4 linked regions of the Homo sapiens genome follow. The protein of the gene in region 4 interacts with the protein of the main gene of each other region in a pairwise test. Each region holds a gene or a part of one and is shown on either strand. Other genes may lie near its edges.

The links.
Region 1: the proteins of CSTF2T (region 4) and FOXJ2 interact in binary tests that used the Homo sapiens proteins (3 or more experiments, as listed by UniProt).
Region 2: the proteins of CSTF2T (region 4) and PKNOX2 interact in binary tests that used the Homo sapiens proteins (3 or more experiments, as listed by UniProt).
Region 3: the proteins of CSTF2T (region 4) and FAM168B interact in binary tests that used the Homo sapiens proteins (3 or more experiments, as listed by UniProt).

Annotation. Positions count from the first base shown.
Region 1 is NC_000012.12:8,027,979-8,035,716, reverse strand, and holds the start of FOXJ2 (forkhead box protein J2), read right to left. Parts: upstream 3,002-7,738; 5' UTR 1,884-3,001; intron 1,651-1,883; exon of another isoform or gene 1,540-1,650; intron 1-1,539.
Region 2 is NC_000011.10:125,160,238-125,167,772, reverse strand, and holds the start of PKNOX2 (homeobox protein PKNOX2), read right to left. Parts: upstream 3,023-7,535; 5' UTR 2,997-3,022; intron 1-2,996.
Region 3 is NC_000002.12:131,083,455-131,090,476, forward strand, and holds part of FAM168B (myelin-associated neurite-outgrowth inhibitor), read right to left. Parts: intron 5,883-7,022; exon of another isoform or gene 5,509-5,882; intron 1-5,508. UniProt on the Homo sapiens protein: Inhibitor of neuronal axonal outgrowth. Acts as a negative regulator of CDC42 and STAT3 and a positive regulator of STMN2. Positive regulator of CDC27.
Region 4 is NC_000010.11:51,696,579-51,703,991, reverse strand, and holds the start of CSTF2T (cleavage stimulation factor subunit 2 tau variant), read left to right. Parts: upstream 1-4,396; 5' UTR 4,397-4,442; coding exon 4,443-6,293; 3' UTR 6,294-7,413. UniProt on the Homo sapiens protein: May play a significant role in AAUAAA-independent mRNA polyadenylation in germ cells. Directly involved in the binding to pre-mRNAs.

The sequences.
Region 1 (7,738 bases), on a different chromosome or scaffold from region 4:
GAAGCAAGCAGGGTTAGGGAACTCAGTCCAAGCAGGGCCAGTTAAACTGCGTGGCGGTGGTGTACTTGGAGATGTTGTGATATAGTTCACCCTGAGCCATTCAGGCAGGTGCACGCCAGCATCTGGTGAAGTACTTTATAAGAAACAGGCTGCTGTTAACCAGCGAGGCCTCTTTTGTAAAAGGTAGGGGAAGGAGTTCTGGAGTTAGGAGTCAAGGATCCTCATCCTTCTGAGACCAGAGGTATCAGCAATGAAGCTCTCTTATTAGTCCTAGAAGAAATGATCCCAGCCTGAGACTGGGTTGCCCTGCTGCTTAAAGGACTGTCCTGTAGACCGTCACGAGGGCTCCCATTGACTGGGGGGAGGCCAAGCCTTTCCCCTCAGGTGGCCATCCTTACCACCACCTATCCATGTCCTTGTACAGAGGCACCTGCTTCTAGAGGCCCACCAGAAACATACAATTCTAGGTAACTGGAGTATAGTCTGAAAAGCACATAAGTACCTGTCTCCACACACATACCCACTTGAAACAGAGAGCCACATTCACATGAATTAAGAAGTATATGCATGTTGTCCTATAGCACAGCCACACAAACCTGTGCCCTATCTCATATACCACCAGTAGCTTCCAGGACAAATGACTGTACTCAGGAATTTAGGTAGACCTCACCCATGCCCCAGAGAGAGGAGGAAATATGAAAGGCCAAGTCAGATGAAGCCTCCTTCACAACTTGTCCTTGCTGTGAGACAGAAGATAAGGTATCTGCTAATGGTGAGGCAGGAAAGCAGACAACCAGCTAGTGACCTCTCCTAAAAACAGCCTAGGCTTCAGGGGAGGATTTCCTGGTACCCTTTTCCTGCCTTTTCTGAAGATTCTGGACTTTGATAATTCCCTAGCTTATGAAGGAAAACTTTAACACAAGGTTCGAGGGACTCAGAACTGAACAAGAAACAGGAAGGGAGAGGATGAGACTATTAGGTACTTTTCTGGAAGGAAACTTTATATACTCCTCAGAAGTGAAATCTCTCCAGTGGTCAACTTGTTTAACTGGAAGTCTGGACAGAAGCGGAGCAGCAGCCCTCCTCCCTTCGTATCCAGGATCTAATTTTTCCTGAAGAATTGTGAGCAAAAAACAGGAGTCGAGAAGGGGACTGGGGCAGTGGTTCAGGGCCAGCATCAAGGAAGCACTTTAACCCGGGAGTTGGCATTCCCCTGCACACTTTCTTCTCGCCTCAGAACATGTGGGATTCCCATTTTCCCTTTGGATTTTATGGGCAGAGGCATACATCCAGCTAGGAATGGAAATGTCAGGAGAGGAGGCCTCTTGGTATCTGAGATAGGATGAGCAGGAACAGATTGCTTTTCTTGTCAAGGGAGCTATAATTGCAGTAAGCTGGAGGGAACACCTCTGGTGAACACTAAGCTGACCTCGGCATGCCCTGGGCAAGGCCAGGACCCCAGATGCCACCGTGATTTTCATGACAGCCCACTCTCCAGGGGAAAAGGCCCAAGGGTGAAGGGTGGTATGGGAATCTTACCACTGGTTGGGTTGTGTAAATCACTGCTACACAGTATGCATGTTCTCAAAATGCAGCTGTTTTCCGATAACCCTTTTCCTCAGCATGAAAACATCCACTTCCCTAAGGGACCTAAAATGAATCCCATCCCTTTAGTCCCCAAACACTAAGAAACCCATTTCTCAGAGCTTCTGCAGCAAGATGTGGGTTCAAATCCAGGAGCTCCCTTGGATCACATTTCCCATTGGATTTTCTGAGTCATCACTCTGTCTTCCCCGGCAGTGAAACCCACGATCCACCAGCTCAACCCCCTACACCCACTAGTGCCAGACAATGACAGAGAGAAGATGAAAGAAAGCACTAACCTGTCTCCAAGGTTCCTCCGGCAAAGGGAGGGAACCACCTGGTACTGGAGTTTGGGGTTGGAGGGATTCCCCTCTTCAGAGGCAGGTGACGGCTCTCATCCTCAGTGGCTCTTCCTGGACGAGGCTGAGCCTCCCAAGTTGGTGAGGGGAACTGGGTCCCCTGAGGATGAGGAGTCAAGGTTGGAGGAGGGGGAGGGGGAGGAGAAGGAGGTCCTACTTGGGGAAGGTGGCACACCCCCCACACCCTGCTTGTTACCCGGGGGAGGAGGGGAGGAGCCTCTCCCAACCAGGAGTTGTCTCCTCCCCCTTGGGGGAGTTCCCCTCCCCCCCAAACTGGATCTTTCTGAGGTGGAGGGCTCTTTCTGTCTGCTGGAGATAGGAGCGGAGGGGCTCCACCCCGTTCCACTGTCTAGGCACGAGGAAGTTGAGGGGGAGGTCTTCCCCTCTCCAGAAGGCTGAAAGCCGATTCCTCTTCTTTCCCTGGAGTGGCTTCTGAACGTAAGGACTCCTGTCTCCTGTGAATAGTGGTGGGCCGAGGGTGCCTACTCCACAGGCACAGCCCCGTCTCTCTTTGCCTCCAAAGTCCTGAACTGTTGAGAGTGTGTGTTTGGAGGGGCGGGGGCGCGCTAGGGTGGTCTCACTCTGCTTCCCTACGGAAAGCTCCCTTCTTTCCACTTCTGGGGGTCTCCTCCCCGGCCAGTACAGGGGTCTTCCTCGCCTCTAGGCAGGAGAGAGGCGTCCCCTCCAGGGGTCTCTTCTTTCCCTCACCCGAGTGGTAAGGGTCTTTTCTCTCCAACAGGGGGAGAGGTTGCTCGCGTCCCCGCTCCCGCCTCCGCTCCCGGGGTGCCCCAGAGGGTGGGGCTTTCGTACTCCCGGCTGTCCCTGAGCTGGCCTGGGCAGCACGGTCCGGGAGGCCGCGGCTCGAGACTCCGGTCCCTGCTACTGTGGCGGCAGCACCTCCTCTAGGGCCGTCCTGTCGGGTCCGCTCCCTTCGGCGCGTGGGGCTCCCCGCGCTGCCACCGCTCGGGCTCCGACCAGTCTGGGCTCCCGGGGAGCCAGAAGGCGGGCAGACAGTGTCAGGGCTCGGCGCGGGCTCGGGCTCGGCTCGGCTCCGCTGCAGGCCCCGGCTCCTCCCCGGCCTCCGCGCCGCGCTCCGCGCCCCTCCCCCTCCCCCGCCCGCCGGCCGCTGCCGCCACCGCCTCCCGGCGCGGGTTAAGGAGGAGCCGGGAGACGCCGAGCCGCGGGCAGCGCCGAGCCGCGAGCCTCGCTACCCGGTGTGCGCTCCGCCTGGAGAGCCACGGCCGCTCTCACGCCGGCGAGGGATCTCGCCGCCCTCGCCCACCTGCGGCCGCGTGGCTCCGGGAGTTCGCCGTCTACCCGGGATGACAACTCACTGCTCCCCGTCGGGAGAGTCCCTAGTGCGCACCGTATACCGTCAATTCCAGCTGACACCCCAACTCCGGCGTTTCATTCTGTTAAACTCCGTATACAGATGAACAGCCCCAGCTTTCTCAGGACTGTCTTTGATGGGCTTCTCTTTCCCTCGAGATAATTTATAAAGGATCATGAGCATTGAGGTGAAGATTGGGGTGAAGTTTATATGTTACCCTTATATCATCCTGGAATTCAGTAAATGCTCCTTGAATGAGTGGATACATGATAAATGAGCGTGTAACGGTGAAATAAACATCAGAAGATCTGGGTCCTGTTCCTTGTTTCAGCTTCCTAAACTTGTGCATGGCCCTTGTTCTCCGCAATCTTGCTCAGCGAAGAAGGGACCTTGATACTTGGCCTGCTTACCCTTTACAGCTGTCACATCCTGAAGTCATATTATTCTGCTGCAAATTCTCATATATTTCATACTCTGGCTTTTTTTTTTTTTTTTTTTTTTTTTTTGAGGTGTTGTTTCACTTATTGCCCAGGCTGGAGTGCAATGGCACGATCTGGGCCCACTGCAACCTACGCCTCCCGGGTTCAAGCGATTCTTCTGTCTCAGCCTCCCCAGCAGCTGGGATGCCTCAGCCTCCGGAGCAGCTGGGATTACAGGCGCGCGCCACCACGCCCGGCTAATTTTTGTATTTTTAGTAGAGATGGGGTTTCACCAAGTTGGCCAGGCTGGTCTCGAACTCCTGACCTCGTGATCCACCTTCCTCGGCCTCCCAAAGTGCTGGGATTACAGGTGTGAGCCACCGCGCCCGGCCCATACTCAGGCTTTTTAAACTTTTATCAAACTACCCTACTTTCTTTCCTTTCTTTCTTTATCTTTTTCTTCTTTTTAAATAGAGGCAGGGTCTCAGTATGCTGCCGAGGCTGGTCTTTAATTCCTGGGTTTAAACTATTCTCCCTTTTTATGCCTCCAAAGTGCTGGGATTACAGGCAGGAAACACGGCCCGGCCTACTCTCTACTTTATAGCACATAAGATAATAGGAGGCCAGGCGCAGTGGCTCACGCCCGTAATCCCAAAGCTTTGGGAGGCCGAGGCGGGGGGATCACTTGAAGTCAGGAATTGGAGACCAGCCTGGCCAACGTGGTGAAACCCCTGTCTCTACTAAAAATACAAAAATTAGCCCGGCGCGGTGGCGGACGCCTGTAGTGCCGGCTAAGGCAGGAGAATCGCTTGAACCCGGAAAGCGGTGGTTGCAGTGAGCCGAGACCGCGCCACTCCACTCCAGCCTGGGCGACAGAGCCAGGTTCCGTCTAAAAAAAAAAAAAAAAAAAAAGAATTAGCCAGGCGTGGTAGTGCGTGCCTGTAATCCCAGCTACCTGGGAGGCTGAGGCAGGAGAATCACTTGAAACTGGGAGACGGAGGTTGCAGTAAGCCCAGATCGTGCCGCTGCACTCCAGCCTGGGAGACAGTGAGACACCGTCTCAAAAAAAAAAAAAAAAAAAGATAATACGAATACAAAAATATTGCTTGCAAAATATTTGAATTGCCCCCAAAAGACTGCATACTTAAGTTGTATGTATATATTATATGAATAATTATATTTACAATATGCCAGGCATTGCACTGAGCATTCTGCATGTGTTGTCACATTGATGATTCTAGCGATTCCCTAAGACACTATTATTATACTTCTTTTACAGATGAGAAAATTGTGACTTACAGATACTATGTGTGAGTTCGCTTAATTAGTAAGTAGCAGAGTCAGGACTTAAATCCAAATGACTCCGATGCCCAGCTCTTGACTTCTATACCATTGTCCGGAGCGATCAGAATTTAAAGTCATCCTCAAAATTAAAGGCAGTAAACCAAAACAAGCCTGTTCTTCCTGCTCACACTTCCTATATTCAGGTTTAAAGATGTATTTTTCCTCTCTTTGAGGCATTAAATAATTCTCCCACACGCAGATAATTTGGCGGCAAATCTTTCTTGCTATGTATTAGATGTTTTGTTATGTTTCAACCGTTTTTGACATTTCCTGTGTATGGAAATTGGAGGGCTTGAGTGACAGGCAGTTGTACTAAAAATGGAAACATGAGGGAAGGATTAGAATCTTCCTGGCAATTTGGAAAAATAAAAAGCTCAAGAAATTATTTGGTTTTTACAAGACATTTGCTGCAGTATTTTTTGTAACTGGAAAATTAGAAAAGACCTAAATATCCAAAATAGGGTAATTTTAAATATATTATGGCACATCTGTACAACAGAGTACTATTTAGCATTTGCAAGAATAATTGTATTTATCTCTGAAAGGTAGAGTGAGTGGAGTTGTTTTATTTTTATAATGTTCTTTATCATTTAGATATTTTGCAGTAGGCATACATTATTTTAAAGAACCATTGTTTTATATATCTGACTTATTTGAGTGAGAAAATAATATTTTAAAATTTGTATAATGCAATCATATAGTTGCTTTTTAAAATATATATATGTTCATGCATATATTTGTGTGCATACCAATAGACACATAGAAGATGGATACACACCAAAGATGTGAGTTTATGGATTATTTTAATTTACTTCATTTTTTAATGTATCTATAATTAGTGTTTGTGTAGATTTGCTTATGTAATTTTTAAAATTAAAAGAAACTGACAAGGCTGGTTTGGTATGGTTTTGCCCTAAGATTGGGGGGAAGCACTTACATTCATTCTCACTTTACTTTCTATTAAGGCGGGTAATACGGAGAAGGATTTTTTAAGTCACTGAAACATACAGAAATTAAAATGTAAGGATCCACTCTTCTTTGTAATAAAACATGTTATATAATTATTCATGAGTGTTAATTTACCTTGAGCAAAACTATTCTTTATAAAATTGGAGACTAATATGCTACAACGCACGTTTTGGAAGCACTTATTAGAGACTGTGTATTACGTGAAACAAAAATAGTGGTTCTCAACTGTGAGTCCTAATAATTGTGAGAATTTAGGTAAGTCATTTAACTGCTTTGTGACTCAGTTTCCTCATCAGTAAAATGGGGATAATAATAGTACCTATTTCATAATGTTGTGAAGGGATTATGTGCCTTTATACATGTAATATATTTAGTTAAATGCCTGAAGGAGGAAGGACCTAGAGACTGAGAGGCTTATCAACCAAATGCAATATATGTGGACCAAGAGACATGTCCATCAAATACAATATGTAGACCTTTTGAGGGATCCTGATTAAAACAAAGCAACTGGAAAAAATATTATGAGACAACTGGTAAAATTCCAATACTGAGGGCGATATCAAACAATTATTGTATACTTTAGGTGCTAATGGAATTACCATTTTATGAATATTTATGAATACTAAAGTATTTAGACATGAAATGCCTGAAATTTGCTTCAAAATAATCAAGTAATGGGGGAGAGGAGTACAGATGATAGATGAAAGATTGAACGAATGTTGCTTTTTACAACAGTTTTTTTAAAATGCTATTCTCTGGGCCAGACGTGGTGGCTCATGCCTGTAATCCCAGCACTTTGGGAGGCCAAGGCAGGTGGATCACCTGAGGTCAGGAGTTCAAGACCACCCTGACCAACATGGAGAAACCCCGTCTCTACAAAAATATGAAAATTAGTTGGGCATGATAGCAGGTGCCTGCAATCCCAGCTACTCGGGAGGCTGAGGCAGGAGAATTGCTTGAACCCGGGAGGCGGAGGTTGCAGTGAGCTGAGATCGTGCCATTGCACTCCAGCCTGAGTGACAGAATGAGACTGTCTCAAAAAAAAAAAAATCTTATTTTCTCTACTTTTGTGTGTGTTTGAATTATTACAAGATAAACAATTTTTTAAAAAGTACTGTTTAGCCGAGCGTGGTGGTTCACACCTGTAATCCCAACACTGGGAGTCTGAGGCGGGCGGATCACGAGGTCAGGAGTTCGAGACTAGCCTGGCCAATATGGTGATACCCCTGTCTTCACTAAAAATGCAAAAATTAGTCGGGTGTGGCGGCACGCACCTGTAGCTCCAGCTACTCGGGTGGCTGAGGAAGAAGAATCGCTTGAGCCTGGGAGGCAGAGGTTGCAGTAAGCCAAGATCGCGCTACTGCACTCCAGCCTGGGCGACAGATCGGAGACTCCATCTCAAAAAATAAAAATTAAATTTAAAGTACTGTTTAAAAATGCTGGAACATAGCTAGGACTATGTTTACTATTATTATATGCTTTGTATGTGTAATACTACCTAATGTCTGTTTACACCTTTCAGATTACAATGTTTTCATTTACACTAGGTCTTTTAGGATTGACACTAAACCTACGAGGTGGGGAAATGTTATTCCCATTTACAAATGAGACAACTGAACCACAGCCAAGACCGCATCTCCACTCTTCCAGATTCCTGGGGACCTGTGATCAACGGAGTAGGGGGTAGCCTGCCGCCACTAGACACAGAGTTCTGACCTCTTTTAATGACTCTA
Region 2 (7,535 bases), on a different chromosome or scaffold from region 4:
GATTTGCCACTGCCACACAATAAAAGCCCCTTTTGAAAGCAGCACTTTCATTAACTTAAAGCAATCTATAGACTTAAAAGCAGAGAGCAGTAAACTCCCAGAGAGGATCATAAAACAGCCAGTCTCAAGTTGGGTATACTTCAGTGCAATTCGCACGAGGCATTTTACTGTGAGCGGTGGTCGGGCCCATCTCCCTCCGGTAACCCCCTGCCCCTTATTCTGAGCAGCCTCTCTTTCTCTTGGCTTTCAAGCCTTTCCCGCTCACAAAGGGGAGGCGGTGACCAGGGAGTCTCCGTGGGGTCACGGCTCCCTCCCCCCTCGGGCTCTCAGCGGGAGAGAGCTCTCACGAATTCCAAGCCTACAAAACAACAGCCTTGGAGCTCCGCGGCGGCAGTCGCCGCGCCCCGGGCCGCCGAGGCCACTCGTGGGTCGTGGGTCGTGCGTCTTCCGTGTCCTGTAAGGGCTGTCTGGCTCTCCCTGCCAGGGGTGCAGGGGGCTGGGATGGTGGGTTTAATATTAAGAGGAGGAAATCTCAAATCTTCCTCCCCTCAATGCCCTCCTCCCCCCCGCTCCCACCCCCCACACACACTCTTTCTCTAGATGCCCAGAGAATAACCTACCTCCCTGGTCGGGACCCCTTCCCACCCCACACCCCACAGCTAGGCCCAAGCTATGGGGATGCAGCCCGAGTGGGAGATTATGAGACCAGAAACGGGACCCTCCCTCCCCGCTTCCACCAAGGTCCTGGGGCCTCCGAAGGCCAGAACGGCAGAGAGAGCAGGAGGGCAAGGGCAGGGGCTTTGGGTAATACACCGTGTTATGTTTGAACACCATCATTCTCAGATTTGGGGCGGGGAGGATCGTCTAAACTGCCTAAAATGCGAAGCTTTTGGCTGCCACCGGTTATAGAGCATTTGAAACCCGAAAAGCTAATATCCTGAAGTCTCCGGACAGGAGAGATGACAGTAGGGCACTCCAAGCTTCCTCCTCCCCCGGGCGCACCAAAGGCCGGGTTTGTGGGCTTCTCAGTCCGGCGCGGGTAAGCACAGGAAGCGGCTCCAATCAGGGCACTGGAGTTTGAGCCGGTCCTACCCTGGGCCACAGCCCAGACTCCTCGGCCCACTGTGGCACCTCGCTGCTAGCGCTGCCCCCCGGCCTTCATCGCAGGCCGCGGCCCCTGCGGGCCACCGCTCCCGCCCCGCCGCGCTGCGCCCGCAGACCCAGGTGGCTCCTGGAGCACTCCGAGCCGCCTGGGTCGGGACCTCAGATCCACTCCCAGCCCCGCGAGGCTGCCCTGCCGCTTCGCCCAGAAGGTCTCTTCGATCTGTCCGCTTCCCGGAATCGCTCTCTTAGGACCGGGTCCTGTGTGGCCCAAGTCCTCTCCTCCTAAAGAAACACTTTCAGGGGGAAGCAGCAAAAATTCGGGGCTCGCCTGCCATGGCTCAGATCAACTACTTTCATCGCCTACCTAAACGCTTTTTCACACGCGGAGCTGCAGGACCCCTCGTGCTACCCTCCCCAAATTCCAATAGCTTCCACCACAAGAAAAAGCTGTGATCCTGTTACTGAATCCTAAAAACGCCACCCGTTCCTCCAGCCCCCAACTCCGACCTCCAGCCCTCTGCTCTGGCCGGCGTGTAAACTACTTATCGGCCCCTCGATCCCGATTCCGTAAACAGTCTGGATCCTATAAACCGAACTCTAGACTGGTCCTAAAACCCAGCCCTAATTCAGGCCGATCCACAAGCCCCTACCCCTCAATTCCCAACCCGAGTCTCCCCACCGCGCGGAAACCCCCGGCTCCCCCGTGAAGAGCCCCGGGAAAGGACGGCCCATTTCGCTCGTTTCTTCCTGGGGATCGGGAGCCAGGAAAGCCCGTCTCCTAACCCGAAAGAAATGCAAACTTTGAGCGGCAGATTCGGGATCCTGCGCCATCCCCCTCAGCTCTCCGCTCTCGATCGCTTTCAGTTCCCTCTTTTACGAACTCATCCCCTAGTTCTCGAGCCAGAAGGGCTCCCGATTCCCAAGCCTCGCGCGGGCCCCTACGCCCGCCTCACCAAAGATCCCCAGCAATCATGGAAAGCCGGTGACCCTACACATTCTCGCTCCTCCCTGGGTGAGGGTCCGTGCGTGTAGCCCCTCGGATCCTGGCTTCCCGGGCCCCGCCGGTGTTCCCCTGTCTCCACTGATCCGTCTGCAAACCCTCATTCGCCCTGCCTCCCCAGGCCGCGGCCGCGGCTCCTCGACTCCTCCGGTCACCTGGCCCCAGCCTGGGACCGCTCCCGCCTCCAGCCGCTGGAAAGCATCTCCAGGCTGGTGGCGCGGAGTAAGCGCCGGCCCCAAGGACGCCCGAAGCCGGGAGAAAGAGAACCTGGAGCCTGCCCGCGGTTCCCAGCCTCTCCCCGCGGAGCGCCCGGCCGGGAGCCTTCTGCACCCGGGCTCGGGCCGGCGTGCCTGTTCCTATTCTCGGGTCCCCTGGCGCTCCTGGCGCACAGCTCCCCGCCCGCCCGCTACGGGGTTGGGCCCGCGGCGATTCGAGTCCGCAGCCCGGCTCCTTGCACCCGAGGACAATGCGCGGCCGGCCACGGGCCCAAGCGCGGCGAGGCGGCGGCGGCGGCGGCGGCGGGGCTGAGCGCTGGCCGGGCAGGGGAGCGGGCGGCCCGCGGGGCTCTCGCAGCCTCCGTGCCCGGCCTCGCCGCCCCTCGCGCTGCTCCGCTCCGCGCTCTCCCGGCGCTTCCCCAGCTTCTCTCTGCACGCTCCCGCCGTCCCTCGCTGCTCCCTGCCTCCCTCCTCCCTGCTGCCTCCCTCTCTCTCCTCCCTGCTGCCTCCCTCTCTCCCTCTCTCCTCCTTGCCCTGTCGCAATGAATAATACTCTGGCTTGGGGACTGGAATAAAACACACGCGCTCTGAGGCAGCCGCCCGCAGCAGCAGCCGCCGCCGCGCCGCCGCCGCCGCCTGCAAAAGCGTCTCTGACATGGAAATGAATGACAGCTTACCTGATGCCAATCTTCATCAGACTGACACCGGCGTGACAACACAGCCTATACTTCCCAGCACTGCTCGGGACGTCAGCGGCACAGGGACCCGCCCCCCGGACCCCCCCTTCACACACCTCCCCTCTCCCCACTCCCCCTTTTCTCCCCACCCCCCATCACCCCCACCCACTCCCGGCCCGGCCGCTGCCAAGTCGGAGGAGCCGCTGGAGTGTCTCCCTCTACCGGAGGCTCTCGGGCGGCGGGCGCGGGCCTGCTCCTGCGGCAGGGAGGCGGGCGGCCTGGAGAAGCGGCTCCGCTCGCGAGGAGCCTCGGATGGGGAGTGCGGTGGACCCCCAGGAACTCTGGAGCACCCTCCCGCCCCCAAGCCAAGTCCTCCTTAGCGAACAACCGGGGCCGAGTTCCAAGATATCACCGGTGCTGAGGGGACCGAGATGAGGTGAGATTTTCTGTGGACCCCAAGAGAACTCCCCAGAAATGATGAAACTTAAAACGGGCAAGAAATCCTTCCTTCCACCAGCACTCCCCCTCCCCCTTTTCCTGCCTGGCTGGCCTCATTTTTATGATTGCATTTGAATAATTCTCATTACCCTGGCCCCAGAAAAGGTGTTCAGATGACACTCTGGTTAGTTATTCCTGGTCTCAAGAGCTTTTTCTGCTGTGGGCTTCCCGGGGTGTCTGGTTCAAGGTGGGGCAGAGGGAGAGAGGAAAGAGTGGATAGGCTTTGTCAGTAAAGCACTTCTTTGCAAATGTCAGGCAAGCCTGTTCTAAGCCACTGCTATTTTCATTCTAATAAAAAGTCCTCAAGAAACTCAGTGAGTTCCCAGAGTTCTGGGGGCTGGGGTGCAGTCATATAAAGGGAAAGACCAGCTGGGCTGTTTCAGCCTGGGCCTGCTGGGGTGGCTTCATCTACATCAGGGAGGAAATGGGCTCCTTACATGCCCTCTACAGTGGAAGACAAAAGCAGGCATGTGTAGACCCACAAGCGCCTCCATTCACTCAGCAGAGATCACAGTCCTACTAAGAGCCACACACAGGAGCACACTTGCTTGCTTCCTCAACTTAGCACATGGCCCTCCGCATAAAGGGACAAGAGAACCCCTTCTGCCTCTGGAAGTTTGCTTCTTGCTCCCCATAGAGGAGCCCTTTCAGCCAGTCAGGCAGCCATTGATCCTCTGACCCCAGGCCAGGCAGGGGGCCTGGAAGAAGCCCAGACAAAGACACCGACAAAAGCGGGAAAGCAGAAAGTGAAACCCAGCCTCTGGGTTTTCAGTAAAGAATCTGACCCAAGAAGTTGAAGGCTGCCCCTGAGCTCTTCTCAGGCCTCTGGGTCGCCACTCACCCGCCTCCGTCATGGGCAAGGATGAGAGCTGTTAGCATTGCCTGGCTCAGGGGAGGCAATTGAGACCCTTCTTATATCACATCCCAGATACACACACTACTGTTTGTCCAGATCCTCCCAATACCCTCAAATCCACCCACCAACGTTGCTTGTGGGAGAAACTCTTCAGTGGTAGCCCCCATTATAGACAGATTAGAATCCTCTCACCTTCACATAGAACCTTCAAAAACTTCACTAGGTGGATTTATGTCACCCTAGCCTCTGATCTGCAGTCAGAGTCTCTGGCTGCTGACAGCATAATCGCTATTATATATTATACATTGTATAATAATATAATAATAATGAATGCACTTGCCCTTTTTATGTGGTACAGAAGCGGCCAGATTCTCCAACCCAGAGGCTGGAGGTCAGGCTGCCATAAACTCTCAGAGGGAAGCCCTCTTCAGATAAGGGAGGGGGAGGGGAGATCCATTTGTCTCTGCCCAGGACCCCTGGAGGGAGGAGTTTCTCTCTTTCCCATGGCTCCCAGTGAGTTGCTGCAGCCTGCAGAGTCAGAGGGGAAAATCAGGCTGAATTCACCCCATCAGAGAGGTGTCAGTGAGCCATAAATAGGACCGCAGGCAACAGCCTTGGATCACTGATTTACACCTGTCACACCCCTCGTTTTCTGAAATCTAGATCAATGCCCAACACTTTCCTGATATGGGAGATCCATTGCCATGAGCTATTAATTTTTGGAGTCTTCAAATACTATGATTTTCACTAATACCTTTTTGGTGCTTTAAACTGCACATCGTAGTTTTAAGTAAATATATCTTGCTTTGACTATTTTTGTCATTTGCAAGAGCTTAAAAAATGATTATCCAAAATATAACCATCGTTTTTATAATCACTGAAGGCAAATATTTTCCCTGCACCCACCAGAAGCTCTGCTGTGTGCTAGCACTAAGAATAAAGAGCAGAAGCAAAGAGGCTCAGGTTATGGCTCCTGTCCTCAAGAAGCATTCATTTGTTGAAGAAGACAAAGCGCCAATATGTAAAACATTAAGTAGCAATAATACAGGAATCAACAGAAGACACAAGCTAGTAAATACTTAATGAAGAAATGAGTTGTCAATATGTCAAATTCCATGAGTTCCACATCTCAGTTTTGGCTCTGTCAATGAGTAGAGAAAGGATAGAGTAGAAATTAAGAATTCACTACAGATACTCTACAATTTCTTCCCCATCATCCCTCTGAGGATGAAGAAGAGAATGGAGAGGAATGTACATGTTGTATTGCATAAGCCATCAACACACTGACATTATAACCAAATAGAAGTTTCTACAAATCCTAGTTATCACTCCTAAATTTTGGAGTTTCTGTTTGGTTCTGGGCCCTCTTCTCACTCTACCTGCACTTTGTCTGTGGTATAAGCAGCCCACACCAGCCCAGGCTGCCTCCTCCAATCTTCCAATGTGGGTGATCAATGGCCCAACTGAATTCTGCCAATGTCACAATATGAATAAAAATTTAAGACCTGTCTGTATTAGTTTGCTCAAGCTGCCACAACAAAATGCCACACACTGGATGGATTCAACATGAGACATTGATTTTCTTACAGTTGTGGAGGCTGGAAGTTCAAGATCAACGTGCCAGCAGAGTTGGTTTCTGGAGAGGCTTCTCCTCCTGGCTTGTAGATGGCACCTTCTCACTGTGCCCTCGCGTGGCCTCTCCTCTGTGTACACAGGCAGAGAGACAGCTCTGGTGGTCTCTCCCTCGTCTTATAAGGACAGTCCTGTTGGATTGCGGCCTAACCTTATGACCTCGCTTAACCCCCCTAAAGGCCCTGTCTTCATATACGGTCACATTGGGGGTTAGGGTGTCAACATATTAATTGGGGTGGCGGACACAATTTAGTCCATAATACCACCCAACTACAGTTCCCTTCACTCTCAACTTAATTATTTTTAATGAATATTGATAGATTGCGAGTTCCCTGAGGATGGGGACAATATCTTATTTCATCTTAGGATCCCTAAAACCTGGTCCAGTGCCCAATCCAGAAAACATATTAAAGAAATGCTTGTTGGATTGAACTGAATGAAACATCATTGTTCCAGTCCTAGTTGACAGACTTATCACTAGTCACCTGGAATATTTTGATAATTTTTTAACTGGTCTCAATGCCTCCAGTATCTCCAATCCCTCCTATACACTTGCACAAGGATGTTCTTCCTATAACAAAGGTTGGATCACACCTTGGTTTCTCCTGAAAATCATCAGTAGCTTTCCATTGCTTATAAGATTTAGCCTAAAAAGTTACTGGGCCTTATAATAAAAAGAAGGACCTTGAATGCCACACTCCTTACTTAGCAAGGTCTTCATGTTAGTCCTCATCTGGCCCTGATCCCCTTTCAGGCTAATCTGCTCCATTCCTGCCAACGCCTCCCCAACTCCACCTTCTAGTGATTTCCAGTGCTTCCTGCTGCATCAGAACCCCCACCCCAACCCCCGGGGAACTTCTTTATAATTCAGGGTTCCAGGTTCCACCCCTAGAGAAATCAGTCTGGAGAAAGGCCTTGGAGCCCGTATTTTAAAAGTCACTGCAGTTGTGAGGTTTGGGCACTTCCATTCTACCCAGCACTCCTGCTCCAGCTCATGGGCCCCAGAGTACATTCTGGATTCTGGGCCCTTCCTGTACTTGCTCACACTCTTCCTTCAGCCCCGGGTTTTCATTCCCCCTTTTCCTACCTTCTGAATCCTATCTGCTTATAAGCTTTCATGGAAACATCACCTCTCTTCAAAGGATCCTTGGATCCCCCAAAAGAGAACACCAGCTCTGGGATCGCCAGGCCCTGGCTCAGCTCTCCACCCTGTAATGAAATGGCCAGCTATCTGGGACATTACTGGTGAGTGCCAAGTCTCAGTTTCTGTGTTTGTGAAATGAGGATGATAATAGAATCCAACTCATGACACCATGGGGATTAAATAAAATCACAAATCTAACGAGCTTAGCACAGTCCCTGGCACATGGGAGGCTCTTCAATAAATGAATGGCAGCATTAGGTTTAATAGCCCTTTACACAGGGCTGCCCAGTGCTTTGCATTTGCCTTTGCCTTTATTATAGTGCTTATTTAATTGGCCTGAGGAAGGGAGATATTGTTTACAGAGAAAGCTGCCACAGGCCCTGAGGGCTGCAACACGGATAATGGGAGC
Region 3 (7,022 bases), on a different chromosome or scaffold from region 4:
ACTTGAATCCAGGAGGTGGAGATTAGCAGTGAGCCAAGCTCATGCCATTGCACTCCAACCTGGACAACAGAGCGAGACTTTGTCGCAAAAAAAACATGGGGAAAACCCTACAAGTAACCAAAATGTTCTTCTAACAGAGGATAGTTAAGTTAACCAAGACATATCCAGAACATGAAATATCACGCAGCTGCTTTTCAAGAAATGTTTAAAAACAGAATAATACAATGTTAAGTGAAAACAAAGTAGAGTATTATACTGCATCCTGCATTACACAGTATGATCCCATATAAACACCTATGTGTATAAAAATGTGCATCCCTGGCACAAACAGAAAAAAAGTCTGAAAAGAAATATATAAAAATATGAACAGTGATTGACTCTAGATGGGAGTGGATTTAGTGGTCCTTTTGCAATTTCCTGTATTTATTTATTTATTTATTTATTTATTTATTTATTTATTTATTTTCCCAGACGGAGTCTCGCTCTGTCGCTAGGCTGGAGTGCAGTGGCATGATCTCAGCTCACTGCAACTTTGCCTCCCAGGTTTAAGTGATTCTCCTGCCTCAGCCTCCCGCATAGCAGGGACTACAGGCGTGCGCCACCACACCCAGCTAATTTTTGTATTTTTAGTAGAGACGGGGTTTCACCATGTTGGCCAGGATGGTCTCATCTCTTGACCTCGTGATCCGCCCACCTCAGCCTCTCAAAGTGCTGGGACTGTATTTCTCCCCTCCGCCCCCCCCACCCCACCCCAAGACAGGGTCTTGCTCTGTTGCCCAGGCTGGAGTGCAGTGGCACAATCTCAGCTCACTGCAACCTTGACCTCCTGGGTTCAAGTGATTATCCCACCTCAGCCTCCCTAGGAGCTGGGACTACAGGTGTGGTGCCACCACATCTGGCTAAGTTTTGTATTTTTTTTTTTTTAAATAGAGATGAGGTTCCATCATGTTGCCCAGGCTGGTTTCAGACTGCTGGGCTCAAGATATCCACCCACCTCAGCTTCCCGAGTAGATGGGACTACAGGTGTGTGCCACCATGCCACTCTAGTTTCCTGTATTTCTTCAAAAACTTGTTAAGTTTTTTTTCCTAAGAAAGACTAACTGGTTACAGCCCAGCACCTCTATGAATCCATTCAATGTTTTATCATCCATGGATCTTTCTTTTTCCTGACAAGTTCAAGAACTTGCACAGCCACAACCAGGACTCTACCCCTCCCCAACAGAAGTACTGTTGGGAACTGATTCCCATTCAGCTCTCTAGTAAGCTCCTCTGAATCTTATCCAGGGTATTATTTACTTTTATTTATTTTTTAGACGTGGTCTCGCTCTGCCAGTCATAGCTCACTGCAGACTTGATCACCCAAGCTTAAGTGATCTTCCCACCTCAGCCTCCAGAGTAGCCAGGACTACAGGTGTGCATCGCCACGTCTGGCTCATTTTTAGTAGAGACAGAGTTTCACTACGTCACTCAGTTTGGTCTTGAACTCCTGAGTTCAAGTGATCCTCCCGCCTTGGCCTCCTAAAATGCAGTGTATTAAAGTGTAAGCTTTCACTATTCCTCATCTGGTAAATCACTCACTGACGTATGTGGTTATAAAGATTAAGGTGATCTTTAAGATTAAAACAGCATGTGTGGGGGTAGGGGGGTATATGGGAACTCTCTGTACCTTCTGCTCAATTTTGCTGTGAACCTAAAACTGCTAGACCTAAAAAAAAGTCTATTTTTAGGCTGAGTACAATGGCTCATGCCTGTATTCCCAGCACTGTGGGAGGATCGCTTGAGGCCAGGAGTTCAAGACCAGCCTGGGCAATATAATAAGGTTCCATCTCTGAAAAACATGTAATAAGTAACAAAACACAAAATGTGCATTTTATGTCTGTCTTCCCCACATCCCCATTTAGAATGTAGCCAAAACAAGCAGGGAACAGTTGCACTTGGTTCTGTTTAAAGGCAATATCTCCAGCATCAATAACAACATCTGGTACAAAATAGCTGCAACTACCTACCGACTTTCTAAAAAACAAATGCCTTTCAGAACACTCTAGGTGTCAAAATCCATTACGAAGACAAAATACAAAAAGAAACCACTTCAAATTTTCAGCTCATTTGTCTCATTTAGAATATTCACAACCAAGCAATCCTGTAGTAAGAAGAAAATATTAGGTCACATCCTTAGCCTCTGTAACAGGAAGTTCTGGATTAAATCAGGAATAAACTGGCAACTTTAGTAACTAAAACATTCATTACCTGAACTGTCTAATTTTTTTAAACTTCTAAACCAAATCCAAATGCCAGATTTGTCATGCCATTCACAACTACAGCTACGTGATAGGTCTTGACCAGCACTGACCAACAAAACTTTGTACAATGACCACATCCTTCTCCATCTGTGCTGTCCCCTACAGCAGCCGCCTGCCAAGAGTGCTGAGCATCTGAAAAGTAAGGCTAAATGAGGCTACTGTGAGATTGATCTTTTAGCTTTATTTAACTTCAACATAAGTAGTCACATGTGGCTAGTGGTTACTATACTGGACAGTGCAGGCCTACAGTTCAGAGTAGGGAGGAAACAAGTATACAAAGGCATAGCAGGTAGGCAGGAGAATCAATTGTGTGTCTTACCCTACAGTTTAGGAATAAACATACTAGCAACTGCCAATCCCTAGTCCCCTGTACTTTTAACCCATGCTTGGCGGATCTGCAACCAAGAAATTGTGGGGGTCTGCAAATACTTCACCTACTTCTCTGGTTCAACTATCATCTCTCAAGAAGCAAATATTTCCCAAATGTTATTTCTTTCTTCTGTGCCAGGAGCTACTAATTTTTATTTCTTAATTGAATTCCAGATAAGCAAAGCACTACACAAAGGCCACAGAGAAAACAAAATGGCAAGTCACAATCTCTTCTGAGTTTTACAATCTGGAAAAGCGCTGTCCAACAGAACTGTTCACAAAGATGGAAACGAGCCCTGGCAATATGGCAAGACCCTGTCTCTACAAAAAGTAAAAAGATCAGCTGGATGCGGTGGTGCACACCTGTGGTCCCAGCTACTTGAGATCAATTGAGTCCAGGAGTTCGAGGCTGCAGTGAGCTATGATCGTTATCACTGCAGTCCAGCCTAGACAATGGAGCAAGACCCTATCTCAAAAACAAAGATGAAAGCCTGTCTGTACTATCCAAATATGGTAAGTGAATTTTTAGTTTAATTAACTTCAACAGTCCTATGTAGGTGACAGCCATCGTATTGGACAGTGCAAACATATACATAATAAGATTAAAAGTATGAATACTTTCTGATACAAGGCAACAAGTGTTAAGAGTCACAAGAGAAAGGCCGGGCGCGGTGGCTCACGCCTGTAATCCCAGCACTTTGGGAGGCCGAGGCGGGCGGATCACGAGGTCAGGAGATCGAGACCATCCTGGCTAACACGGTGAAACCCCGTCTCTACTAAAAATACAAAAAATTAGCCGGGCGAGGTGGCGGGCGCCTGTAGTCCCAGCTACTCGGGAGGCTGAGGCAGGAGAATGGTGTGAACCCCAGGGGGCGGAGCCTGCAGTGAGCCGAGATTGCGCCACTGCACTCCAGCCTGGGCGACAGCGAGACTCCGTCTCAAAAAAAAAAAAAAAAAAAAAAGAGTCACAAGAGAATAAAGTGTTCTGAGGGCTGAGAGGGGAGAGCAAAAATTCTGTGGAGGAGGGAAGAAATAGGAAAAACTTGATTAAAGGGCAGCGTTAGGCCAGGCACAGCGGCTCATGCCTGTAATCCCAGTACTTTTGGAGGCCAAGGTGGGAGGATCACTTGAGGTCAGGAGTTGGAGACCAGCCTAGCCAACATGGTGAAACCCCATCTCTACTAAAAATACAACAAAAATTAGCCAGGTGTGTTGGCAGGCACCTGTAATCCCAGCTACACAGGAGGCTGACGCAGGAGAATCACTTGAATCTGGGAGGCAGAGGTTGCAGTGAGCTGAGATCGTGCCACTGCACTCCAGCCTGGGCAACAGAGCAAGACTCCGTCTCAAAAAATAGTAATAATAATAATTAAAGGGCAGCATTTCCAATAAACAATGGATAGGATCAAATCAGCCTCAGAAATGAGAACAAGCAAGATGCATTTTAAGAACATTAAGCAACTGAGTTTGTTTGGAGCTTAGGCTCTATGTAGGGAATCAGTAATAGATGATTGTGGAGACACAGCTTAGGTACAACCACCAAGTGGAGACCCTTAAATACAGGCCTGAGTGGAGATGTCCTCTGGTAGGCAAAGAAGCTCCTGAGCAACTCTGAGGTAAACAGAGTTACCACATGACCCCACAATTCCACTCCTAGGTACATACCCAAGAGAAGTGAAAACACATGCTACACCTACAGTTGGACATGAACATTTGTAACAGCATTATTCCTAACAGCCAAAAACTGCAAATTCAAATGAAGTACTGAAGGATGTTAGGAGGCTCTCCTTCCATAATGACCTGACTTATAGCCTAGACCAATAATAATAAAACTCTACTTGGCTGGTTGCAGTGGCTCATCCCTGTAATCCCAGCACTTTGGGAGGCCGATGAGGGCGGATCACTTGAGACCACGCGTTCGAGACCAGCCTGGGCAACATGGTGAAACCCAGTCTCTGCTAAAAATACAAAAATTAGCTGGGCGTGGTGGCACACACCTGTAATCCCAGCTACTCGGGAGGCTAAGGCATGAGAACCGCTTCAACCTGGGAGGTAGAGGCTGCAGTGAGCTGAAATCGCACCACTGCACTCCAGATGGGGCAACAGAGCAAGACTCTGTCTGGGGGGAAAAAAAAATCAAATGGAGCCTTTACATCTAACTTCCAGTTTACAAGAAACGCAGGAGTAGGAGGGAATATGCTGAATGACACCATGAAACAATCAGACAAACCCCAAAAGTGGGACATTCCAGAGGACAAATGACCCAGTTTCTTCAATAAGGCAATGGTGGGGGGAAAAGGGGGCGGGAGAGGAGGAAGGCCAGATAATTCTAAATTAAAATAGATATAGACATAAAAGCAATAGCTGAATTTTGTTTGGACTCGATTTAGACTGAAACAACTGTAAACAGAGTTTAAAGATATCTGGGACACGACTGAATACTGGGTATCAGCTGGTATGAAACAATTATGTTTAATCCTGGTAACAGTACTGTGATTATGTATAGTTACATAAATTTGTAAAGATACAATAAAGTATATAAAGTCGAAAATGATACATCTATACTTTAAAATATTTCTACAAAAAGAGCAAATAATCTCTACATCAAGTAGAAATTATGTAAATGCTAATAATCTTTACATCAAGATGTTGCATATAAGGTTATGCACTGTACTGCCGCATTTTCAATTCTGCATAATGCAAAACTAAAGAAAAAACACACCATCACCAATCTACCTGAAATGTTAGTGCTACTAAAATCTCCCTGCAACCACCAACTTTCCAGTCTAATTTGCTGTGGACTAAGAAACCCAAACCCAAGGCTGGATCTAGAGCGTACCACTTTTTTTTTTTTTTTTTGAGACAGAGTTTTCACTTTTGTTGCCCAGGCTGGAGTGCAATGGCGCGATCTCAGCTCACCGCAACTTCTGACTCCCAGGTTCAAGCGATTCTCCTGTCTCAGCCTCCTGAGTAGCTGGGATTACAGGCATGTGCCACCACACCCAGCTAATTTTGTATTTTTAGTAGAGACGGGGTTTCTCCACGTTGGTCAGGTTGGTCTCGAACTTCCGACCTCAGGTGATCCGCCAGTCTTGGCCTCCCAAAGTGCTGGGATTACAGGCGTGAGCCACTGCACCGGGCCGAGCTTACCACATTTTTAGTTTCCCATTTGAAATGACTCAACTGTCAGAATTCTTATGGGTGGTTTGACACCTGCATTAGAATAGACAAATGTCAGATTACCTTTAAAAAGATGACAGCAAAAATTCCTAACTTGAAAATCAAATCATAATCAGAAGAAAACTCTATCTTTAAAATGAAAGACCTGGCCAGGCGCAGTGGCTCACGCCTGTAATCCCAGCACTTTGGGAGGCCAAGGCGGGTGGATCACAAGGTCAGGAGATCGAGACCATCCTGGCTAACACGGTGAAACCTGTCTCTACTAAAAAAAAATACAAAAAGAAAATTAGCCACTCACAACTACTTGGGGAGGCTGAGGCAGGAGAATGGTGTGAACCCGGAAGGCGGAGCTTGCAATGAGCCGAGATGGCGCCACTGCACTCCAGTCTGGGCAACAGAGCGAGACTCCATCTCAAAAAAAAAAAAAAGAAAGAAAAAAGAAAGACCTGGCTGGGCATGGTGGCTCACGCCTGTAATCCCAGCACTTTGGGAGGCCAAGGTGGGCAGATCACGAGGTCAGGAATTCCAGACCAGCCTGGCCAACATGGTGAAACCCCGTCTCTACTAAAAATACAAAAATTAGCCAGCGGTGGTGGTGCACACCTGTAGTCCCAGCTACTTGGGAGGCCGAGGCAGGAGAATCACTTGAACCCAGGAGGCAGAGGTTTCAGTGAGCCGAGATCATACCACTGCACTCCAGCCTGGGCGACATGGACGCTCCATCTCAAAAAAAGAGGCCGGCGCAGTGGCTCACGCCTGTAATCCCAGCACTTCGGGAGGCCGACGAGGGCGGATCACGAGGTCAGGAGATCGAGACCACAGTGAAACCCCGTCTCTACCAAAAATACAAAAAAAAAAAAAAAAAAAATTATCCAGGCACGGTGGCAGGCGCCTGTACCCAGCTACTCAGGAGGCTGAGGCTGGAGAATGGCGTGAACCCAGGAGGCTGAGCTTGCAATGAGCCCAGACCGTGCCACTGCACTCCAGCCTGGGCGACAAAGCGAGACTCTTGTCTCAAAAAAAAAAAAAAAAAAAAGAAAGAAAGACCTATCACTATATACTATTGTTTCCTGGTTTGGAAACATACCATCTCTAAACAAAGTTCCACACAGAGCACTAAGTATGAAATACTATAACACGAGGCCTTTAAAATTTTATATCAACAAATCTAAT
Region 4 (7,413 bases):
TGTATTTTTAGTAGACACGGGGTTTCACCATTTCACCATGTTGGCCGGGCTGGTCTTGAACTCCTGACCAAATGATCCACCCACCTCCGCCTTCCAAAGTGCCAGGATTACAGGCGTGAGTCACTGTGCCTGGCAACTATGATTGCAATCTTATAATGTAGTGGTTCTCAAAATTGAGCTTGCATTAGAATTACCTGGAAAACTTGTTCAAAGATTTCTCTGTTTCTGATGCAATAGATTTGGAGTAGGGCCCCAAACTTTTAATTTCTAAGATGTTTCCTGGTGATGCTGATGCCACTGAACCAAGGACCACATTTACAGACCTTCTTTTCTGGCAGACTATTGTTTTCACTGCTGTATTGTCAGTGCTTGAAATAAATATTGATGGAATGAAATAATAAATTTGAGGCACTTAGTTAACTGATAAAGGGGGATATATAATGATTTTACAGTTTAGAAGGAAAATCACAATTTTGCTGAAAGGTAAAGGAGTTACTATAATCAGAAAGGTACAAGGTATATCAAGGTTTATATCCAAAGAAAAACAAAATTACTTCTAACCTAGGGGAAAGGGTAGAAAGGTCATAGAAAGCTTTGTGGAGTAGTTTATTTGAGCTATTCCTTGAAGGACCCGTACACTTATTTCAAAAATGACTGTCATTACTCAAAATATTTGTAGTTCTTGTCTTTGGAATTTGTCTACTGAATCAATAGTGAATCTTTTCTTTTTTCCTTACACTCTATAGTGAATCTTTTTTTAAAAAATTCCTTCAAAGTGTATAGAATTTTTGTATTCTGATGTAAGGTTTGATATTTGGAATTAGCTAAGCATGATATTTTTGCCAAATCTGGTCAGGAAGTTGGGTGATTTTGTTGCATAATCCTGTTCTTTGTTAAAAATAAAGTATACTTTTCAGTTAATGTACCGATTTTCTAGTATGACTTATAAATGAAGGCCCAAAGCAATTTCAGGGTAGAAGTTCAAAAATCAGTCTGAGGCCAGGTGCAATGGCTCATGCCTGTAATGCCAACTCTTTGGGAGACTGAGGCAAGCAGATCGCTTGAGCTCAGGAGTTCAAGACCAGCCTGGCCAACACGGTGAAACCCCGTCTCTACAAAACGCACAAAAAATTAGCCATGAGTAGTGGCACACGCCTGTAGTCTTTACTCGGGAGGCTAAGGCAGGAGAATTGCTTGAGCTCAGGAGGCAGAGGTTGCAGTGAACCAAGATCACGCCATCGCACTCCAGCCTGGCTGACAGGAGTGAAATCCTGTGTCAAAAAAAAAAAAATTCATTTTGAACAATGGATTAAGTTTGTAGTTTCTGAAAGTGATTAAAGGACAGTTTCCATTTGGCCATAGATGCTCTTGTGTGTTTGAAATCAGTCTTAATATATCTGGTATCAATCTGTTGAAAGAATCAACGTCTGGACATACACTATACCATGTACACTTTTCTTCAGAGTGTATGCCATGCTATAAATATCTAAAATTTAAACTTTATGGGAATAAAAAAGCAGTATAAAAATGGATGTTCTTCCAAGTTAGATCTATAAAAAAATATGTACTGGTACCAGGAAATATACATAGGTTTATCTGAGCTCTTGATTTGGGGACATTGAGTTAACAATAAGTATTAGTTCATGTGTTCTGGGCATGGAATTACATGGTGGGTCACACTGGTCCTGTATGAACGGGGGCATGACAAACCATTCTTCTAGTTTGGAACAGTGGGACTAAAGAGAACATGGAAAGCCTGTGACTAAAGCACACTCTACAGTCATAACTTCCCCCTTCTTGTTTGTCCCATAGTCCTTCAGCTACTCTCTGTTCACCCAGTCTTCATGTCCAGGGTATCTTCAGTAGCAGATCAGCATGTACTAGAATAGTATATTAATAGTAAATTCATAATGTTTTAAAAACCTTTACCTCAAACCTTTTAATAGAGTGTACCAAATTTAGTTTGGTCTGATGTAAATGAGAAAATCTACTACCAATCCCTAGGACCAATGATTCTTAAAGATCTCCAAACCAGCAGCATCAGCATCACCTGAGAGCTTATTAGAAATGCAAATTCTCCAGACCTGATAAAGCAGAATCTGACTTAACAAGCCATGGCTCAAGGTGGTTCTGCTACATGTGAAGACCACTGGTTTAGACAGTATCAGCAGTAAAGAAACTCTGTCAAGATGTGCAATCTTCTACGAATTTTGCAACATATTATAATACCCCATTACCATCTTCATGATTACTACATTTAATACACACACAATTACACACATATTCAACTTGTAAGTTACCCTTGACAGAATGTGTATAAAAAAGGTATGCCTTCTCTTTGTAAAGTGATGGTATAGAAGGAAGAAAAATAGATTTGTCTTTAGTTTTTTTAAATGATACTATCCTTAACCCCTCCCCTTTCGTCCCCAATAAAAGAATCACACTGGGGAAACATTGCTAGCAGGTGACTATTCCGTTTCTTTGACATAGCAGGAAAATCTTATTAGGTGATGTAAATGAACCTTGTCACTTGCAAATATAAACTGTCGCGCATCTTGGGTGAACAGCTAAGTGCAGAACTGTTTCAAAAACTTGAAGGTAAATGGATGTCTTATTTGCAGCTAAACCATCATACTCATGTCAAATCTATTCATTGGAATAGGATACTGAAGATACATAATACAATTTTTTTGCTGAAATTTAAAAGTTTCATAATCCACTTAAGAGGCATATTTCAGAATAAAATAATTCTCTGTTTTGGAATTAAAGCACAGGCTTGGAGCAGTCCAGTCCACAGAAGTATAATGCAATCTATCCATATAATTTTAAATTTTCTAATAGCCACATTTAAAAAAGTAAAATGAAATGAATAACATTAACTTCAAAATAATTTTTTACTCAAATATATAAAAATATTACATTTCGACTTATAAAAAATATAAAATTGATGGGCTATTTTTACTTTTTTTGTATTTGATCATTAAAATCTTTCATGTATGTTACATGTATGGCACACCTCAACCAGTATGTTAAATTTTGACTGGAAATACTTTCTTTTTATTTGTTTTTATTTTTTGTCTTAGTGTTCTTCAAAATGATTTTTATTTAGAACACAATTTATTATTGCAAAAGTAGATTCTATATCCAAGTTGTTCTAAATACTAAAAAAGTTTTCCAATAGCTTACTGAACATTAGTTTTTATATTTAAATAAAAAATGAGATTTAAAATTCATTTCTTCAATCACACTAGCTTCATTTCATATATTCAATACACGTAAGGCAGTGTAGAATTGGAGCTATGCGAGACCAAGCTGGGTTAGAATCCTGACTTGGCCTCTTTCCAGCTGCTTGTCCTTGGGAATTTACCTAGCCCTCTCCAAGCTTCAGTTCTAGCTTCGAATTGCAGGCGGGGAAACACCACACTGAATATGTTTTAACTCCTACCTGCAAAGCTAACAGCAGAAGACAAACACCCGCTATTTGTTTCTCCCTTCATGGAAGTGGTGGACTCACTGCATGATATAATAAAAATCAGAACCAATCAACGTAGGGATAGTTAAGTAAATTTCTTTATTCCATACTCTGAAGCCATAAAATACTAATAACTAATTAATCACTAATTTATTTAATCACCAATTAATATTGAAATCGGTTGTTATTAAGGAAGAAAACCGTAATATTAGGAATAGCACGACGGCTGCCCGTGTGCTCAGGAAAAACCTAGAAGGGTCTGCCACCCATCCATTAACAGCGGTTATAGGAAGCAACAGAATGGGGGCAGGGCCCAGCCGGCACACGCTTCAGTTTATATTTCTTGTCAGTTAATTTCCAAAAACGTTGTTCTAAAAAGGAGATATAATACTGTTTTAGTTTAAGGGGCAAATCTCAAATGTGCTGAAACGACTACGCTTTTCCCTCAGTCTGGAATGTGATTTTAAATCTAGCTTAACTATACTATAATAAAAGGCCACATGAAAATACTTTGTCAGAACGAAAAACACGCCGCCTTAAATCCGCTTTCGGTTGGCGGTTTCCCGCCAGCGGAACGGAAGCAAAACCGCCTTTGACGTCAAGGGAAGAGTCCCCTCCCAGTTACTACGGTGAAGTCTATGCGGCCATCTTTACTGTGGTCATCTCGTACCAAGCGTGTCGTAGTGGGGCTGTTGGGGCCCCACAGAAAGTCAGCGGAACGTGAAATGGGAAAGGAATCATGCGACTCTGTAATAAGAAGCTGACAGAACCATGAAGGATCAGGGACTGAAAGCATTAGATAAGTTGTTAGTGGGATGCAGGTTCCACAGGCAAGCGGAACGATTCAAGCGAATTAGTAAAGTTTCTGCCCGGATCTTGAAAGCCGCTTCCGTTGCTCAGCGGAAGTGTCGGTCGCAAGAGGACAGACGCCTCGAAGAATCCGCTATCGGCTGTCTGCACAACCGGAATCATGTCGAGTTTGGCGGTGAGAGACCCGGCAATGGATCGATCACTGCGTTCCGTGTTCGTGGGGAACATTCCATATGAGGCAACTGAGGAGCAGTTAAAGGACATTTTCTCGGAGGTTGGTTCTGTTGTCAGTTTCCGGCTGGTATACGATAGAGAGACGGGAAAACCCAAGGGCTATGGCTTCTGCGAATACCAAGACCAGGAGACCGCGCTTAGTGCCATGCGGAACCTCAATGGGCGGGAGTTCAGTGGGAGAGCGCTTCGGGTGGACAATGCTGCCAGTGAAAAGAATAAGGAGGAGTTAAAGAGCCTTGGGCCTGCAGCGCCCATTATTGACTCACCCTATGGGGATCCCATCGATCCAGAAGATGCCCCTGAATCGATTACCAGAGCAGTAGCCAGTCTCCCCCCGGAGCAGATGTTTGAGCTGATGAAGCAGATGAAGCTCTGTGTCCAAAACAGCCACCAGGAAGCTCGAAACATGTTACTTCAAAATCCACAACTGGCTTATGCACTGTTGCAGGCACAAGTAGTGATGAGAATCATGGATCCAGAGATTGCTCTGAAAATTCTGCATCGGAAGATACATGTCACACCACTGATCCCAGGCAAATCTCAGTCTGTGTCTGTCTCTGGCCCTGGCCCTGGCCCTGGCCCTGGGCTCTGCCCAGGACCTAATGTTCTGCTGAACCAGCAGAATCCTCCAGCTCCTCAGCCTCAGCATTTGGCTAGAAGACCTGTGAAGGACATTCCTCCTCTGATGCAGACTCCTATCCAGGGTGGAATTCCAGCTCCAGGGCCAATACCAGCTGCAGTTCCCGGAGCTGGTCCTGGTTCCTTAACTCCTGGAGGAGCAATGCAGCCCCAACTTGGAATGCCAGGGGTTGGCCCAGTGCCTTTAGAGCGGGGACAAGTGCAGATGTCAGATCCTAGAGCTCCTATACCTCGCGGACCCGTGACTCCTGGTGGTCTGCCTCCTCGAGGACTGTTAGGAGATGCTCCAAATGACCCACGTGGAGGGACTTTGCTTTCAGTCACTGGAGAAGTGGAGCCCAGAGGTTATCTGGGTCCACCCCATCAGGGTCCCCCCATGCATCATGCCTCTGGTCATGACACTCGTGGCCCTTCCTCACATGAGATGAGGGGAGGGCCATTAGGAGATCCCAGACTGCTAATTGGAGAGCCCAGAGGCCCCATGATAGATCAAAGGGGTCTACCTATGGATGGTAGAGGTGGTAGAGATTCTCGAGCGATGGAGACTCGTGCCATGGAAACTGAGGTCTTAGAGACACGTGTAATGGAGAGGAGAGGAATGGAGACCTGTGCGATGGAAACCAGAGGGATGGAAGCAAGGGGCATGGATGCAAGAGGATTGGAGATGAGGGGCCCTGTCCCCAGTTCAAGAGGCCCTATGACTGGTGGAATTCAGGGTCCTGGTCCCATTAATATAGGGGCAGGTGGCCCTCCTCAGGGACCCAGACAGGTCCCAGGCATTTCAGGGGTGGGGAATCCTGGAGCTGGTATGCAGGGTACAGGCATACAAGGAACAGGCATGCAGGGAGCAGGCATACAAGGAGGAGGGATGCAGGGGGCAGGCATACAAGGAGTCAGTATACAAGGAGGAGGTATACAAGGAGGAGGTATACAGGGGGCAAGCAAGCAAGGTGGAAGCCAGCCTAGCAGTTTTAGTCCTGGGCAGAGCCAGGTCACTCCACAGGATCAGGAGAAGGCAGCTTTGATCATGCAGGTTCTTCAACTGACTGCAGATCAGATTGCCATGCTGCCCCCTGAGCAAAGGCAGAGTATCCTGATTTTAAAGGAACAAATCCAGAAATCCACTGGAGCGTCTTGAAAGGTTTTAGAAAATATTTGGCTGTAGTCTCAAATTTTATTCTGTAGCATGGAGAATGGGTGCAAAAAGCTGACTTCTGTATCCCCACACTTGGATTAGGGTTTCCCTCCTCCTAGAACCTAATCTTATTTTTTGTTCTTTTTCTTTCTTTCTGTTTTCCTTTTTTTTTTAATTGAGGGTGGGGGGAGGAGGGAGTGCGTCTGTTCACTTTAAGTTACTTTAAAATAACTCTGAACATGATTATATTATGCCAAATAAGATTACAAAGAATAAGCAGCAATATTGAAGCATCTACAGTATGTTAACTACATTTTTTAAATGTCGAGTAAAACTTCGTGAAAACTGCTCATAAAGACTAAAAGTTGACCTGTTAAAACGTTAATGTACTAAGATAGTTTTAAGATTTTTGGTTGTATAACAAAATAAAAGTTTACCCAAAAGTATAAGATACATTTTTTGGTAAACCATTTAAAATACAAAATCCTATTTTGGAGGCAATAGGATAAGCATTGTCTTAGTGTTTTAGAATTATTTTTGAAACAGAGTTAACAGGATAAGGTTACACTTGTATTAGAATTGTTTTTTTCTAAAGTTATGTTACCTGAAAAATCAAGGAGTGCACCTGATTTACTGTTGCTTCATTTATCCCATCCTTCAGAGACCAGCAAGGTTCTGCCAGGCCCCAAGCATCTGAGCATGATGATTTTGCTGTGACAATTCTAAGATCAACCAGGTTACTTAAGTCCGCTCTGATGAAACCCAGTCTCTCAATACCTTCCTATTTCTCAATAGTCTTTAAGCCCTAAATCTGAGTCAGTAATTCTCTAAAAATCCTTCCCAAAAATCAGTGTCTAGGGACTGGTTGATCTAGATGAGTTATAAATGGTATTTGACTTTTCATAAGTAGTGGAAGGTTTCACTAAGTAAAGATCTGAGTTTCTTGGTATCTGACGTTTGTATACAGATGGTGTCCATTTGCTCAACCAGACAGGAGTTAACTTGTATTAGAATTGTTTTTTCTAAAGTTATGTTACCTGAGAAATTAAGGACTGCACCTGGTTTAATGTTGCTTCACTTATCCCACCCTACAGAGACCAGCAAGGTTCTGCCAGGCCTCGAG